3 separate regions of the Homo sapiens genome follow, and all the other regions are linked to region 1. Evidence: fine-mapped expression QTL. A gene starts in region 1. Each other region holds a variant in brackets. All regions are shown on one strand. Distances are from middle to middle.

Region 1 (5,245 bases):
TTCCTTTTAAAACCCTCATACTGTCTCTTAACGCCCAGTGCCAACCTGTGCACTGAGCAGCCCCCGCCAGGAGCATCTTTAGCAGGGTCTTATGCCTGCACCTAGGGCTATTGGTCTGAGCGTCTTTGAGAGCCATTTCAGGGACCCCAAACCACAAATGCAGAATCCCTCGAAGGCTTATCACAATGCACTGGAATTGTGCATTCTCAGTGGGTGTTCTGGCCCTGTCCTGGCACGAGAGAGTGGAGAATAGCAGAATGGAAAGGACAGAGCTTCTGCATCAAATTGACCTGGGTTCCAAGTCAGCACCAAAAACTCCACTGAAAGGGTCTCCCAAGATGCTGAGCACCAATACCCATGCTCAGAGATGACAATCAAGGCAGAAGAAAGAGTAAAGAAGGAAATAGGCACCCAGAAAACACAACTTTGAGTCTGGCCATGCGATTTAAAGTAAAATGACAACAAACTGCACAGGTCAGCAGGAAAAGTCTTCAGAGAAGTGCTCCAAAGCTGTCCTGGCCAGCGTCATGCCTGCTCTGGTAGGAAGGACAAGGCATCCAGGGAGAGAGTTCTTGCTTACCAAAGGGGAGTCTGAGTCCAGAGACGGGAGCTGGTCTTTGACAGCCTTGAGGATGGCATCCCAGGGCCCCATCTGGGAGGCCCAGGGAGAGCCCAGCGAGGGTGCCATGCCTTTATCGTTGGATGCCATGAGGGCCCAGGCTTCCAGATGCCTTCTCAGTGCACCATAATCCGGGGAGCTCTGTGGGGTACACAGGGTGATGGAAGAGGGTCCGGGCCACTGAAGGTCAGGAGAGCAGGGGCTGCTCTACCAGCTGTAGGAGACCAAACAGGCTGGCAGGCCTCACCACCTGCCTCAGTTTCCTTCTAGTTATGCAAGCTCCTGTTAGTGCCAGGCACTGTGTGTGTACGTGTGTGTGTGTGTTCCCACTCATGCACACATGTGGAGCCTGCAGGTATATAATGTATATAGTGATATATACATAATAATATACAAATATATGTATTGATATAAATATACCTATGTAGATATATGTACATGTTATATAGAATGCCATATGTACGATATATAATGATATATAGGTATATTTTATATATACCCCATATAGCATAACTATTCTCTTCATTTCATAGGCTCAGGGTGTTTAGTAAATAGCAACAGTGGACTCTGAATCAGGGGGAATTTCAAGTCCTACTACCCTTTACTGCCCTTTACCAAGGAACAGAAGACACCTTGCTTTTTTGTTTTGGAGACAGGGTCTGGCTTTGTCGCCCAGGCTAGAGTGCAGTGGTACAATGATAGCTCACTGAAGCCTCGGCCTCCTGAGCTCAAGTGATCCTCCCACCTCAGCCTCCTGAATAACTGGGACTACAGGTGTGTACCACCACATCTGGCTAACATTTTTATTTTTTGTAGAGATGGAGTCTCCCTGTTGCCCAGGCTGGTCTCAAACTCCTGGCCTCAAGTGATCCTCTTGCCTCAGCCTCCCAAAGTGCTGGGATTACAGGCATGTGCCATCGCGCCTGGCTGACAGTTTGGAGTCACTAAGTGATTTTTTTTTTTTTTTGGAGTCACTACTCTGACCAGCCCCTGCATTTATATCTTAGAGTCTTAAAGGAGATGGTCCTGTTATTCAGGGGGCTGGGGAGCTTGAGCTTGAGAGCTGGGGGGTGAGGGTCCTCTAGAGCCAGTGTCAGGAGAACTCTGCAGCTCGAGAGGCCGCTGTGGCTTTGGCCCTGCAGTCAGTGCCCGTTCATCCCCAATCAGGGCAGCGGCAGGAGATGTGAATTGGGGGCTGCTTGCTTCCTCTGTACTTCTGGGAATAGGGCAGGTGCTTGGTGCACTCTGAACTGGGAGCAGCGGGTTGGGGACGCATCTGGTGCACACAGCCAGCGGGTGTTTTTTGTAACTAGAGCTCTGTTCCGCAATTCAGGGCACAGTATTTCTTAGGGCAACAGAATCGTCGGGATGAAGAGGGCCTCCAGAGACTCTGATAAACCCTTCAGGCGGACAAGACAATAGGGGAGGGAACGGCATTACCGGCAGAAGGAAGAGCATGTACAGTAGCTCAAAGGAATGAACCGCCCAACAGGTTTAAGGGAAGAAAGTGTCAGTTGCTGGACTCTCCGGTGAAAACGGACCAGACAATGCAGGGCCCTGAACGCCAAGTTGAGGAGCTCAGAGCATCCAGAAGGCGAAGGGGAGGCTCGGAGCCGCCTCTGAATAACGGCCTTCCGGCTCCGTCTCGGGGTGGGTTTCTCAGCTGCAGCCTGTTAGCCCCGCCACAGCCCCGCCCCGGTTCTCAGAGCCCCGCCCCCAGCCGGCCTGCCACGAGGCTGCCGGTTGTTATGGCAACCAGACGCCAACAGCCTCCCGGGTCGAGCTTTTAAATTTTAAAGCTGTGGAAGTGGAAAGCCCATCGCTCCTCCTCTCACCCACCCCCAGCCCGTATTTCCCCGCGTTTTGTTCAACTCCCTGCAGGCGCAGCAGGCCCGAGGCCCCTCACCTCAGGCCTCTGCCTCCACTCCCCGCGCTGTCCTGACAGCGCTATAAACAGCCTCCAGCGCGTCACTCCGCTCGCGTCCGCCCCTCGGGCCGCGCCGCAGGTACAGAGGCTGTCCCCTTCTTCAGCACTCTCCCTCTCAGCGGAGCTTTACATTACTAGACTGCCTCCGCCTTCCCCCCACCCCGCCCAGCTCCTCTTTCGGGCCTTTGCGCGTCCTGCCTCTCCTGCAATGGGATTGGTTCCCCTGGAGGGCGGGGACGGAGCAGGACAAACACCACTAGCTCATTGGCTACCGCGGGCATCAGACAGCGAGCCGGGAAGCTGACCGGAAGGTCCGGGTGCGGGACGTGTGCATTCCACGGCGCCCGGGAGCTGTCCCGGTGCCGACCCGCGAGCTTCCCGGCGTGCTCCGCGCCCTCCCGCAACTACTTCCGGGGCGGGTGCCGGGGGCGGTGCCCCGGCGAGGGAGCGTGGCGGCGAGCTGTTTGGGGGGGGTTGGCGACGGCAGCCCGAGGGCGGCGCAAGGCCTGAGGCCCAGCACAGGTGGGTTCCGCGGCGGCCCGGCCCCAGCACTTGCCGGCACCTGCAGCCCGCCTAGACCCGGCGCTCGGGCGTCCCGCGCTGCACTTGCTCGCCGCGTGACTGGAGGACCGAGCCCCCACATTTTCTTTATGTGGTTGTGGTGGGGGCACAGTAATGCCCTGTGCGCCGTAGCGTTCCTGTGGGGATGTGGCCGGGGGGCGTCGGGAAGCGTCACTGCTGTGAGTTACGGGTTTGTCGGCCAGGGACCCGCCCCGGGGCCAGTGAGCTACCTTTGCGATGCGGTTCCACGGGGCGAGAGGGGGTGCCTGGGTGCTTTCACAGACCTCCTCTGTGGGCGTGACAGTTACCACCAGCATCACATTTGTTAAGATTTTTAAAAATTTTTTAATTTTTGTGGGTACGTAGTAGGTGTATATATTTATGGCGTATATGAGAGATTTTGATACAGGCATGCAGTTCGTAATAATCACATGTAAAATGGGGGTCTCCATCCCTTCAAGCATTTATCCTTTGTGTTACAAACAATATGATTATACTCTTTGAATTATTTTTAAATGTGCAGCCGGGCGCGGTGGCTCACTCACGCCTGTAATCCTAGCACTTTGGGAGGCAAAGGCGGGCGGATCACCTGAAGTCAAGGATTTGAGACCAGCCTGGCCAACATGGGGACACTTCGTCTCTACTAAACATACGAAAACTAGGCTGGCATGGTGGCTCATACCTGTAATCTCAGCTACTCGGGAAGCTGAGGCAGGAGAATCGCTTGAACCCAGGAGGCGGAGGTTGCATTGAGCCGAGATCACGCCGCTGCACTCTAGCCTGGGTAACAGAGTGAGATTATGTCTCAAAAAAAATAATAATAAATAAATAAAATGTGCAATTAGATTATATTGACTATAGTCACCCTGTTGTGCGGTCAAATACTAGATCTTTTTTTTTTTTTTTTTTTTTTTGAGACGGAGTCTCGCTTTGTCGCCCAGGCTGGAGTGCAGTGGCTTGATCAAATACTAGATCTTATTCATTCTGTTTTTTTTGTATCCATTAAGCATCCCCACCCTCCACTACCCTTCCCAGCCTTGGTTACACTAGAAGTAACCATCCTTCTACTTTCTATGTCCATGAGTTCAGTTGTTTTGATTTTTAGATAACCACAAATAATTGAGAACATGCAATATTTATCTTTCTGTGCCTGGCTTATTTCACTAAACATAACGATCTCCGCTTCCATCCATGTTTTTGCAAATGATAGGATCTCATTCTTTTTTTATGGCTGAATAGTACTCCATTGTGTCTAAGTACCACATTTTCTTTAGGATTCACTGTAAAGGTAACAGATACTTAGCATTTTCAGAATGGACAGAACCAAAAAGTTGAATGAAAACTAAAACGTCTTATCTCTAATGCTACTTTACACCACACCACTCGGGATGGGACATTTTAGTTTTCACTTTAGTGTTTTTTTTTTGTTTTTTTTTTTGAGACAGAATTTCGCTCTGTTGCCCAGGCTGGAGTGCAGTGGCTTGAGCTCGGCTCACTGCAATCGCCTCCCAGGCTCAAGCGATTCTCTTGCCTCAGCCTCCTGAGTACTGAGACTACAGGCGCCCACCACCACACCCAGCTAATTTTTGTAATTTTAGTAAAGATGGGAGTTCACCATTTTGGCCAGGGTGGTCTCGAACTCCTGGCCTCAAGTGGTCCGTCACGCTTGGTCTGGTTCTCATTGTCCTTCAGACCTCTGGGGATGTCAGATATGCAAGTCTCCAGTAAATAGAGAACACGGCCTCACCCTGCAGGAGGCCTTTGGCGTGGAAGAGACATGCCCAGTGAAGGCTTGAGGGAGGTATGGAAGGGACTCTGAACTGACCCTCAGCTCGTTTGGTTTCTTATCCAGGCTTCGTTGGCCAGGGCTGTTAGGGTGGGATTCTCACCTGCAAAGTGAGGGAAGGGCACTGCACGATCTTGGGCTCTGCTAGCTGAAGAGGTGGTGGCTCCAGGAAGGAGGGCTTTGCTTGCCCCACCGCACCTACACACACTCTTCACCAAGGGTCTGTGAAGTGTTCGTCTCCCACATTGGTGGCTTGTTTCTTTAGCCATCTTGGCTGTCACCTGGGGCTTGGAAGCATTCTTTAATAGAAACTGAGGTCCTCATCGCATCTATTAACTACCATAGCACCTGT
Region 2 (5,245 bases), 27 kb before region 1:
GTGTAGAATGTTAAATTAGTTCCTCAGTCACACTGACCACCTCTCAAGGGCTCAGTCGTCACACATGGCCAGTGGCTACTGTACTGGATGGCACAGACAGGACCCTTCTGACACACCGAAATCTCTATAGACAGTGCCTCTCCACCTCCTTCCAGCCCCATTTGAAGGAGTAGAGGAAGCCTCTTACTCATTCCTGCTGCTTCAGTTTCAGTTGTGGAACTCCTTGAGATTAGAAAGAAGTCCTGCCACCTGCTGTTTCAGTTCATTTTTCAGGGCCTTGCGTGGATGGGGCACATGGGCAGTGCTGACCAGCTGCCTTTCTTCCTGTGGCAGTGCTGCTGGCTGCACACTGCTGGCCTTTTGCAGCCAACAGAGGAGGCACATCCCCTAATGCTTGACCACGGCGTGAGCTGACCGCAGTCAGAAAATCCTGCCATCGGGGTGGCCAAGAAATCGGGGTTTCTTCCCAGCCGGCCAGCCTCTTTCCTGGCCACCACAGCTTCAGTGTTTGGGGTTCCCGGCATGGCTTCCTTCTGTCACTGCACCGACACCTCTGCACACATGCCTCATGGCCATCACTGAGCTGAGAGGGGCAGGCTGTGCTCCCCAAGGGGACTACGCTCCCTTAGAGGTGTGGAATGTTGAATAAGAGGAAGCCTGAGATGGGTCCCTGACGCTGGGTTTGTAGTTGCCTAGGGATGTCTCTTGTCCAAGTGCTATTGCAGAGCTCAATTCTAAGACCCAATTTCATTCAACTCACCTTTCCTGGAATTAGGAAATAGATCATCTCAGAGCACCTGTTGATAATTTCTTTTTTTTTTCTTTTTTTTTTTTTCTTCCCTGAGATGGAGTCTCGCTCTTTTGCCCAGGCTGGAGTGCAGTGGCACGATCTCGGCTCACTGCAACCTGTACTTCCCGAGTTCAAGCGATTCTCCTGCCTCAGCCTCCCAAGTACCTGGGATTACAAGCGTGCTGCCACCATGCCTGGCTAATTTTTGTATTTTTAGTAGAGATGGGGTTTCACCATGTTGGTTAGGCTGGTCTCGAACTCCTGGCCTCAGGTGATCCACCCACCTCGGCCTCCCAAAGTGCTGGAATTACAGGTGTGAGCCATTGCAGCTGGCCAGATAATTTCAAAAAATCTAGCAAATGCAGTTCTGTGAACTTCTGAAATTAGTCCAGCGCTGACTCAGGGCTCTTCTGGCCCAGGGTCTATCCCAGGGTCTATCAGGAGGACCAAGGAATAGAGGGTAAGAATGTGATGGGGAAACGATTGTGGTGACAGGGAGAGACCATGGAGTAGAGCAGGCTGGGAGCTGGCTGCAGGGAACACTGCCACACGGCTGGGCAGAGGGAGGGAGGCTGCAGACAGCCCGGGGGTGGGCAGCCGGCTGGGGTGCCTGAGATGAGGGGTGTGGGGCCCTGCGGGGATTTTTCCTTCTGGCCTTCTGGGAGCTGGTGGGGAGATCACTGTCTGTGTGCAGGGCTCAGAGCTGCTTTCTGATGACGAGGTGCCCCTCGGGATAGGGGGACAGTTCTTAAAACACCAGGCAGAGGCTCAGCCAGAGGATCTGTCCCTGGAGGAAGAGGCTCGATTCTCCAGCCAGCAGCCCCCAGCCCAGCTGAGCCACAGGCCACAGAGGGGCCCGCTGTTGTGGCCAGAGAGAGGTGAGTAGCACCCCTTTGGAGGAATGAGAAGTGGTGCAGGGGAGGGAGGTGAAGGTGACTGGGGTGTGGACTGTGGCCAGGGCAGAGGCCTGCCTGGATGCAGGGTGCACAGGCTCTCCAGCAAGGAGTGGATCTTGGGTGGGCAGCCGCCGGGCTGTTGGGGCCTTGGTGTGCAGGGGACGGCAGGGGCAGTACTGGGTGAGCTGTGTGACTGGTGGTGACTCTGCTCCTTCCCAGGCCCTCCAGCTCCCCGGCATCAGGAGATGGCGTCAGCCTCGCCCTTCCTTTCGGCCTGGTCCCAGGTGAGTGGGATGCTCCTGGTCTGCAGCATCCTGGGGTCTGGCCCGACCTCCTGTGTGTCACACTTCCTTGTTAAGGGGACACCTCTCCTGGGGGCCAAGGTTTTGGATGTCAGAGGAGCTCTTCCCTGGAGTTTTCTCCCTTTGCCCCAACCCTGGAGTCACTTCCCCTGGCCTCCTGGGAAGTCTTTTCTTCTCTCCAGAGGCCATTTAAGTACTCGGCTGTGCCCGGAAGATTCTGCGGTCCACCAGTGAGACAGGGTGGTGACTCCTACTCTGCTGGGCACAGGAATCTCTTGGGACTCTGGGGGAAAACACAGCTTCCTCCCACACCGCTGGGCTGGAATGGGAGTCTCCTTTGTTTGCTTGCTGGTTTTTTTGGGGTTTTTGTTTGTTTGTTTGTTTGTTTGTTTGTTTTGAGCCAAAGTCTGGCTCTGTGCTCACGCTGGAGTGCAGTAGTGTGATTACAGCTCACTGCAGCCTTGACCTCCCAGGCTCAAGGGATCCTCCTGCCTCAGCCTCCTCAGTTAGTTGGGACTACAGGCATGCACCACCACACCCGGCTAGTTGTTTTTTTTTTGTTTTTTTTTTAATGGGACACAGTCTCGCTGTGCTGCCTAGGCTGGTCTTGAACTCCTGGGCTCAAGTGATCCTCTTGCCTAAGTCTCCCAAAGCACTGGGATTACAGGCATAAGCCACCATGCCTGGCCTGTTTTATTTTTATTTATTTATTTATAATTTTTATATGTGTGTGTGTGTGTGTGTGTGTGTGTGTGTGTGTGTGTGTGTGTGTGTATGTATGTGTATTTGTTTTGTTTTGTTTTTGTTTTTTTGAGACAGAGTTTTGCTCTTGTTGCCCAGGCTGGAGTGCAATGGTGCGATCTCGGCTCACTGCAACCTCCGGCTCCCGGGTTCAAGCGATTTTCCTGCGTCAGCCTCCTGAGTAGCTGGGATTACAGGCACCCACCACCATGCCTGGCTAATTTTTTTTGTATTTTTAGTACAGATGGGGTTTCACCATGTTGGCCAGGCTGGTCTGGAGCTCCTGACCTCAGATGATCCACCTGCCTTGGCCTCCCAATGTGCTGGGATTAC[G/A]GGTGTGAGCCACCGCGCCCGGCCGAACATTTCCTTTAGACCCTCCCCGAAAACCCCCTAGACTCATTACCAGAGTCTCTACCTGTTTTTCCCTCAGCCTCTGGCAACCACAAAGCTCCTTCTTGTCTCTGTGAATTTGCCTGTTCTGGAAAGAGTTTGCTTGTTTTTTTAATCATGCTTCCGGGTCAATCTGGTGCTACATCTGGGAGCCACTGGCCCAGAGGCATCCTGAAGTCCCCCGTCTGCCGCAATGGGGTCCTGGGGCTGGCTAGCCACGGAGCCAGGGGATGCTCTTGTCTCCCTGTGGAGCATGGGCCTCGGTGGCTGAGTGTGCAGTGGGTCCACCACTCCTCGTGGCGAATCTGTCCCTTCTCCGGTGGTGTCCCAGCTCTGCAGCAGTGGCACATGGGAGCAGTGGGCGGAGACACCAGGACTCACCACTGCAACGAGAGTGGAGAAGACCAGCTGCACCACCAGGCTTGGCGCCAGCCTCGAGGGGCAGTGGCGGTGCAGCTCCCTGGGCCAGTGGCCTTAGTTGGGGAGGAGGCAGCTTGCTTGGGGCCAGGACTGAGTGGGGTGCGTTCTGGCAGGTGCCCGTGAACTTGGAGGACGTGGCTGTATACCTTTCTGGGGAGGAGCCAAGATGCATGGACCCAGCTCAGCGGGACGCGCCGCTGGAGAATGAAGGTAACTTGCAAGTGATTGTGTCCTCTAGGGGGCTTGCCAAAAATAGGAACTGTCAGGCACCAGCTCCGGGGCTTGGTTCTGTTGGTCCAGTTGGCCTGGGGCGATCCTCCGTGGACAGGGCTACCCGTATCCCTGCAGAGTCCCACCTGCAGGGCCTGCACAGCCACTCGGCCGTGACTCAGGCAGATGCCCAGCACTGCCTTGCCATCCTGTTCTTCTGCCTCTGCCCCCTACATGCTGGTCCTACTTCACTTCAGCTTCCCTGTGCCCTCCTCTCAAGGGCAGAGCTGCTCCCACAGGACCTGGTTCTCCAGCCTCTCCCCATCACACTGAGCACTGCCCTGCCTGTTACCCAGCACCGTCCCCTAAGCTCTTTCTCTGTCCGTTTGTCTCTTCCTGCCTTTCCTGATGCTGCTGAAGCCTTTTCTGGTTTTTTGTTTGCTTGTTTGTTTTGAGATGGATTTTTGCTCTGTTGCCCAGGCTGGAGTGCAGTGGCACAACCTTGGCTCACTGCAACCTCCACCTCCTGGGTTCAAGCGATGCTCCCACCTCAGCCTCCCAAGTAGCTGGGATTACAGGTACTCGCCATCATGCCTGGCTAATTTTTGTTTTATTAGTAGAGATGGGTTTCATCACCATGTTGGCCAGGCTGGTCTCGAAGTCCTGACTTCAGGTGATCCGCTGGCCTAGGCCTCCCAAAGTGCTGGGATGACAGGTGTGAGCCACCGTGCGTGGCCATGCTGAAGCCTTTTCTAATGACAGTGAGATATCGCTTTGTATTAGGGTTCTTCTCCAGAGAAACAGAACCAACAGAAGATACACACACACACAGATTTATTTTAAGGAATGGGTACTTAGACAGCTCCCTTGGTTGCTTACAGAAGTTGACAAGTCTGAAATCTGCAGGCCAGGCCAGCAGACTGGAAGCTTAGGATTTCTGTGCCACGGTCTTGAGGCAGACTTCCTTCTTTGGGAAACCTCCAGAATTTTTTTCCTTTTTAAGGCTGAAGAATATTCCATTGTAAATAATGCTGCAGTGAACGTGGGTGTACAAGTGTATCTCTGATCAACTCTGCTTTCCGTTCCTGGGTGGATGTATCCAGCAGTGGGATGGCTGGAGCATATGTGGTCATTCTGTGTTGAATTTTTTGAGGAGCCGCCATGCTGTTTTCCACAGCATCTGCACCATCTCATGCACCCAGCAAGAGTGCACAAGGGTTCCAGTTTCTCCACATCCATACCAATGGTTGTTATTTTCAGGGTTTTTTTTTTTTTTTGAGATGAAGTCTTGCTCTGTTGCCCAGGCTGGAGTGGAGTGGCACGATCTCAGCTCAGCTCACTGCAACCTCCGCCTTCCAGGTTCAAGCGATTCTCCTGCCTCAGCCTCCCAAAGTAGCTGGGATTACAGGTGTGTGCCACCATACCCGGCTAATTTTTCTATTTTTAGTAGAGCTGGGTTTTGCCATGTTGGCCAAGCTGGTCTCGAATTCCTGATC
Region 3 (5,245 bases), 870 kb before region 1:
CAAGTTCATGCCCATGTTTCTGATGATTCTGTTCCTTCTACCTGGAGCCCCCCATCTCCTGCAATCAGTGTTACGACTCCCACTTGTCCTTCAAGACTCTATGTATCACCTCCTCTGTGAAGCCTTCCCTACCTGTTTGCACTACCACTCAACTTTATATTCTTCCTACACTACAAAGCAATCAGATTGTGCCTCAGTTATGGGCTACTTCTTATTCATCCTGTGTCCTCCTCACAGACTGCAAGCGCTTTGAGGGCACGGTTTGAGTCTTATTCATATGCATACCTTCCAACTCTTAGCAGTGACTGTGATATAATTTAGGGAGTTGGGGGTGGAATGAGGAAGAGATGAGAAGTGAGGGAGAGAGGAGGTGAGTGAGAGAGAAGGTGAGGAAGGAAGGGAGGGAGGAATGAGGGTGGAGGGCATTTTGTGGTTGGAGAGCAACACAACCAGAGTGACTTAGGAAGAATCTCTGAACAAGGCTTTTCTGATGACTATGGATGAATGGTTAGGAATTTGGATGGTCAGATCTGAGGGGAGAATTCAAGCAGAAAGGATAGCCTAAGCAAAGGTCTGCAGTCAGGGAACATGGGGCATGGACACTGGAGGACAGGGTGGGAGGAGAGTAGCAGATAAGGTTGGAGAAGCCACCAGATAGTATCCCAATGCCAAGTATGAAATCACAGGACCTTGCTCTCTACTCTCACATCACAGAGAGCTGCTGAAATATGTCAGAAAGGAGGAGCCATGGTTCAGCAAGTGAACTGATCAGACAGTGGGTCAACTAGAGACATGCCACGGGCAACCTCTGCTAACTTCAGATTGAGAGTAAGACAGGAAAATGCCAAGGATGCCAGGGAAGAGGGAGGAAAGCTATGCCTGTGAATATACAGAAAGAGAAGCAATGGGAAAGGTGGGCCAGCTTATGGGTTCCATGATGGCTGCTACAAGTCTCTATGAGACACCTGGAGTTGGGACAGCATCTGTGTTGGCACTCTCCCCTCCTGTTCTCAAGGCAGACATTACCATTCAAGAGTACCATTCTTCTCGCCTATACCAAGGAAGACATTACTAATCAATGGTGCCACTCTCCATTCCTGTACCCAAGGCAGACATTATTAAATTAATGGCCCTACTCTCCCCTCCTAGACCTGAGGTAGACATTACTCATCAAGGACAACACTCTCCCCTCCTAGACTCAAGGCAGACTTACTCATCAATGGCACCACTCTCCCCTCCTAGACCCAAGGCAGACATTACTCATCAGTGGCACCACTCTCCCCTCCCAGACCCATGGCAGACATTACTAATCAATGGCACCACTCTGCCCTCCTATACCAAAGGCAGACATTAATCATTAATCATCAGTGGCACCACTGTCCCCTCCTATTACTCATCAATGGCACCACTCTTCCCTACTGAGTACAGATATAGCCTTGGCATCCTTGACCTGGGACTGGGTCTAACCTCCACTCCCATCTGACTGCCGTCTATAAATGAGGTGTTACCTACTCTCCATACATGGTTACAGGCATCATAACCTGGGATCAGGGACGTGAGAGCAGAAAGAGCCTGAGAAACCCTCATTTCACAGACACGGAAGCCAAAGTCCTTGGAGAGTTGGTGGTGGAATCAGAGATGAAATCCAGTCCAATCTGCCCCATCTCTTTCTTCAACATTCTGCTGCACCTTGGAGGGTAAAACAGGGAACAAGCCTGTCACCACTCACAGCAACTAGAAGCCAGAGCAGAAAGGACAAGCAAACCTGCCTCAAACTGGCGTCAAACCTGAGTCAATGCTCAGCGGAAATGAAGGCCGGGTGAGTGGGTGTGTGTGCGCGGGCTGTAGAGAAGGGAACAGGAGTTTCACTTCCATCCCTCTGAACAACACAGATCACTTTTGCTAAATTCCAAAAGGTGGCAGCATTCCATCAAATATTCATTTGCTGAGACTGCAGCAGGGGACGTCCTACAGAGGTGACATGGGCAGGAAGTTAAGACGTCCAGATGACTAGGGGATAAGGAAGTCTGGAGGGTCAAACACTGAAGTGGTCTGGTTCCCGGGGGGCCCATGAGCCCCTTTTCTGCAAGAAAAAGGGAAAATGCTGGAGAGAAATAGCAGCACACTTGGCCCCAAGAAGAGGAGAAATCCAGACTCATCTCGGGACTGTATCAGCATGGACAGACCTCAGTGCGGCCCCATGATCAGTAGCATGTAGGCAGGACCCACGAGTTACTTCTAACCAATAGAAAAGATGATGGGCATGCCATGATTATGTTGGGACATGTGTACACAAGACTCCATGTTGCTAACATGCACTAGAGAGACACTCCCGGGAAAAGCACACTGTCACATTGTAAACTGCCTGTGGAGAGGGCCATGTGGCAGGGAACCGTAGGTGGCCTCTAGGGTCTGAGGGCCTGCATCTTACAGCCACAAGAAATTGAATTATTCCAACAACCAGTGAGATTGCAAAGGGACCCTGAGCTCCAGATGAAACTCCCAGCTCCTGCCAACTCCCTTGCCTGCAGCTTGGTGAGAACCTAAGCAGAGAACCCAGTTCAGCTGTGTCCAGACCTATGACCAATCGAAGCAATAAGATGGTAGACAGGTGTTGTTTGAAGCCACTTAGTCTCTTAAGCACGCATAAAAAATGAATTTTTTGTATTCTTATTACAGAAAAATACAGGGGTTTTGAAATATGGCTCTGGAATGAGGCAGAACAAAGTAAAAATTTGGGTTCTTCCACTTAACTGCACTATGCTTACTGCCTTGGCTATAGAAGGGGAGAGTGACACCATTGATTAGTAATGTCTGCCTGGAGTATAGAAGGGGG[G/A]AATGGCACCATTGATTACTAATGTCTGCCTTGGGTATAGGAGGGGAGAATGACACCATTGCTTAGTAATGTCTGCCTTGGGTATAGGAGGGTATAGTTTCTACTATATCAAGAAAGAGAGAAAAAATAATAGTGCGGTTCTTACGCTGGACAGCATCACTTCCACGAGTTCAGGATGCATTTGCTCCAGAGTGAACCCAAAAGGAAACATGTACCTGCAAGTTTCTCAGTCTCATTCCCAAGTGCCTCTCCATCTTGTGGCCACATGATCACAGATGACTGCAATGTTTAAAGACAGGTATGTTTCATTCATCCACCATGCCACCTCAACACAATCACTTCATCTGGCATCTAAGCAAAGACCCTCATTTTTTCTAATAATCAAGGAAAGTGTGGCTGTATTTGATGTATCGAGGGGCAGAAAGATTGGTCTCCAACAGGACTTGCACAAGTAATTGACCAGGTGTAATTTTTATGTTACCTGATGACTCTGGAATTAACTTTGCATCTAAGACACAGGTTCCCAGAAATGCTCCCTGCATCACCAAAAAGAACCTGCTGGCCTTCCCCTCAGCTCAATGCAGCATGGGAAACAGCCCAATCTGGGTCTGAATTTCAGACTGCTTCCCCATTAGCTATGAGACTGTGCAAGCCATGCCCTTCTGAGCCTCAGTTTCCCCATTTGTAAACAAATAGTTTGAATAGGTCTTCCCTCCTTGGACTACTCTGGGTAGAGAAAGATACAATGCCTGTGAAATGGTGGGTGCAATGCCAGGTACTTCCTAGTTCCCAAAGATGCTAGCTGTTATGATTATTTTATTCTGAATGCTGGCAAAATATACTTTCTGCATCCAGGGAAAGCCCTTTCTGGGAGACAGTGCCAAAGCAGACAGGTGGAGGTCAGAAAAAGTAGAGCTGACTGGTGCCACAGGGCAGTGAGTAGGAAGGGCGGTGAGATGCCATGGCCTGGAGTGTTCTGCATTCTGGAGCAGGCAAGGACCAAAAAGTCTATCTAAAGGCCACATTTAGTCTTGTAAACCCCATTTTCACTCCTCTAGAGGAACGACACAGCATTTCCATGACAACTGAGAATGAAACTTGAACGAATATGCCGTCAGCTCTCCTGGAAAACCTTCTTAACAGTCCAGAACACACTGCTTAATTTCATAAATAGTTATTACTATTACTAGTATTAGTACTATTATTACAACTACATTATTACTACTATTACTACTACTGCTTCTTACTATATTACATTTATTACAACTACATTATTACTAATATTATATTATTACTACCACTGTCAAAGAAAATAACTGCTCACTATAGAAAAAAAATAAAAGGGTCTAAAGGAAAATGCAAAAACCAGTAATTTAGTTGAACTTTCCATCTGCCTTTCTGACATCTCTCTGCACTCAGAGAAAGGGAGATCTATGAATACAGTTTGCACACAATTGGAATCATATAATACAGGCTGTATTTCTCACTCAACAGTATGTCATGTGCATCTTTCCAAGTCAATAAACATAAATCCTCACCACAAAATCCTAGCAGCAGCTTGGAATTGGACTTTATGGATATACACAATTGACTTAAACTATCCCTTACTGAGGGATATTGAGGGTACATCTTTTTAAAAATTATTTGTGCTACTACAATCATTTCCTTAATAAATATACAAACACATCTCACACTTGTACAATCATCTCCAAGGTGCAAATTCCCAGAAGTGTAATTGCTAGACCAAAGATGGAACACATTTTACATTTTGACACATGTGAATGTGAGGCAATCTGCCATCCAGAGATGGTCAGGCCAACATATGCTGCCTCCAGTAGAGGTCGTCAAAATGACTGCTTCTACCCATGACACATTCCAAGGCAAGACAGGAAGCTGACCTGTGAGAGTCCAGCCAGAAGGACCCAGCTCAGCAGCCCTGCTACAGTCAGAGGGTGGAGATGGAGGAGCAGGTTAAGGCAACTGGATCCTCACAGCCTGAATCTCTGCAAACCTAGAAGACTCTACAGCCTCCAGAGGAGAAACCAGCAGGATACCATCATCCCTTCCACTAGAGAGAACACATCAGCCTCCATGAGTGAGGTTGGGGGCCAGGAAATACCTGACCCAACCCAAGAGAGCTAAAAATCTAGCAGGCATAGGCACTATTCTAAGCACTGGGGAAATGGAGCCATCTCAGACACCTTTGATCCTATTGTGGGCAATTAACTTTTTCAACTACTTTCCCTTCAAAAGCTTCTGTGCCACCAATATCAAGGCTCTTTAGTAAGTCACTTTCCTGCTCCACGCCTCATTTCCCCATCTGCAAAATGTGTTTAGTATCTTTGTTTTCTTTCCATAGACTCAGTGTGACATTACAAGCATCCTGGGTGGAACTGCAAGACATAGTTA

The links. PIP is the estimated chance that this variant, and not a neighbour inherited with it, causes the effect.
Region 2: its variant is fine-mapped to the expression of DNAAF8 in nasal epithelium (TOPMed, PIP above 0.99).
Region 3: its variant is fine-mapped to the expression of DNAAF8 in spleen (GTEx, PIP 0.98).

Annotation. Positions count from the first base shown.
Region 1 is chr16:4,731,979-4,737,223 of GRCh38, reverse strand. It overlaps DNAAF8 (dynein axonemal assembly factor 8), which reads right to left and starts at 2,687. Exons shown (of 10, transcript NM_139170.3): 1 at 2,526-2,687; 2 at 581-760. The coding sequence starts at 709. ANKS3 (ankyrin repeat and sterile alpha motif domain containing 3) reads left to right here and starts at 2,953. Exons shown (of 18, transcript NM_133450.4): 1 at 2,953-3,286. RefSeq lists silencers at 2,828-3,057, 3,108-3,167.
Region 2 is chr16:4,758,996-4,764,240 of GRCh38, reverse strand. It overlaps ZNF500 (zinc finger protein 500), which reads left to right. Exons shown (of 6, transcript NM_021646.4): 3 at 1,485-1,668; 4 at 1,906-1,970; 5 at 3,653-3,749. Among named protein-coding and RNA genes, the nearest start is that of ZNF500, 5.5 kb to the left of the region's middle. The variant G/A (reference allele first, on the strand shown) is at 3,063.
Region 3 is chr16:5,601,615-5,606,859 of GRCh38, reverse strand. LINC01570 (long intergenic non-protein coding RNA 1570) reads left to right here. Exons shown (of 3, transcript NR_110902.1): 3 at 5,196-5,245. It also overlaps a transcript of RBFOX1 not described here. Among named protein-coding and RNA genes, the nearest start is that of LINC01570, 12 kb to the left of the region's middle. The variant G/A (reference allele first, on the strand shown) is at 2,837.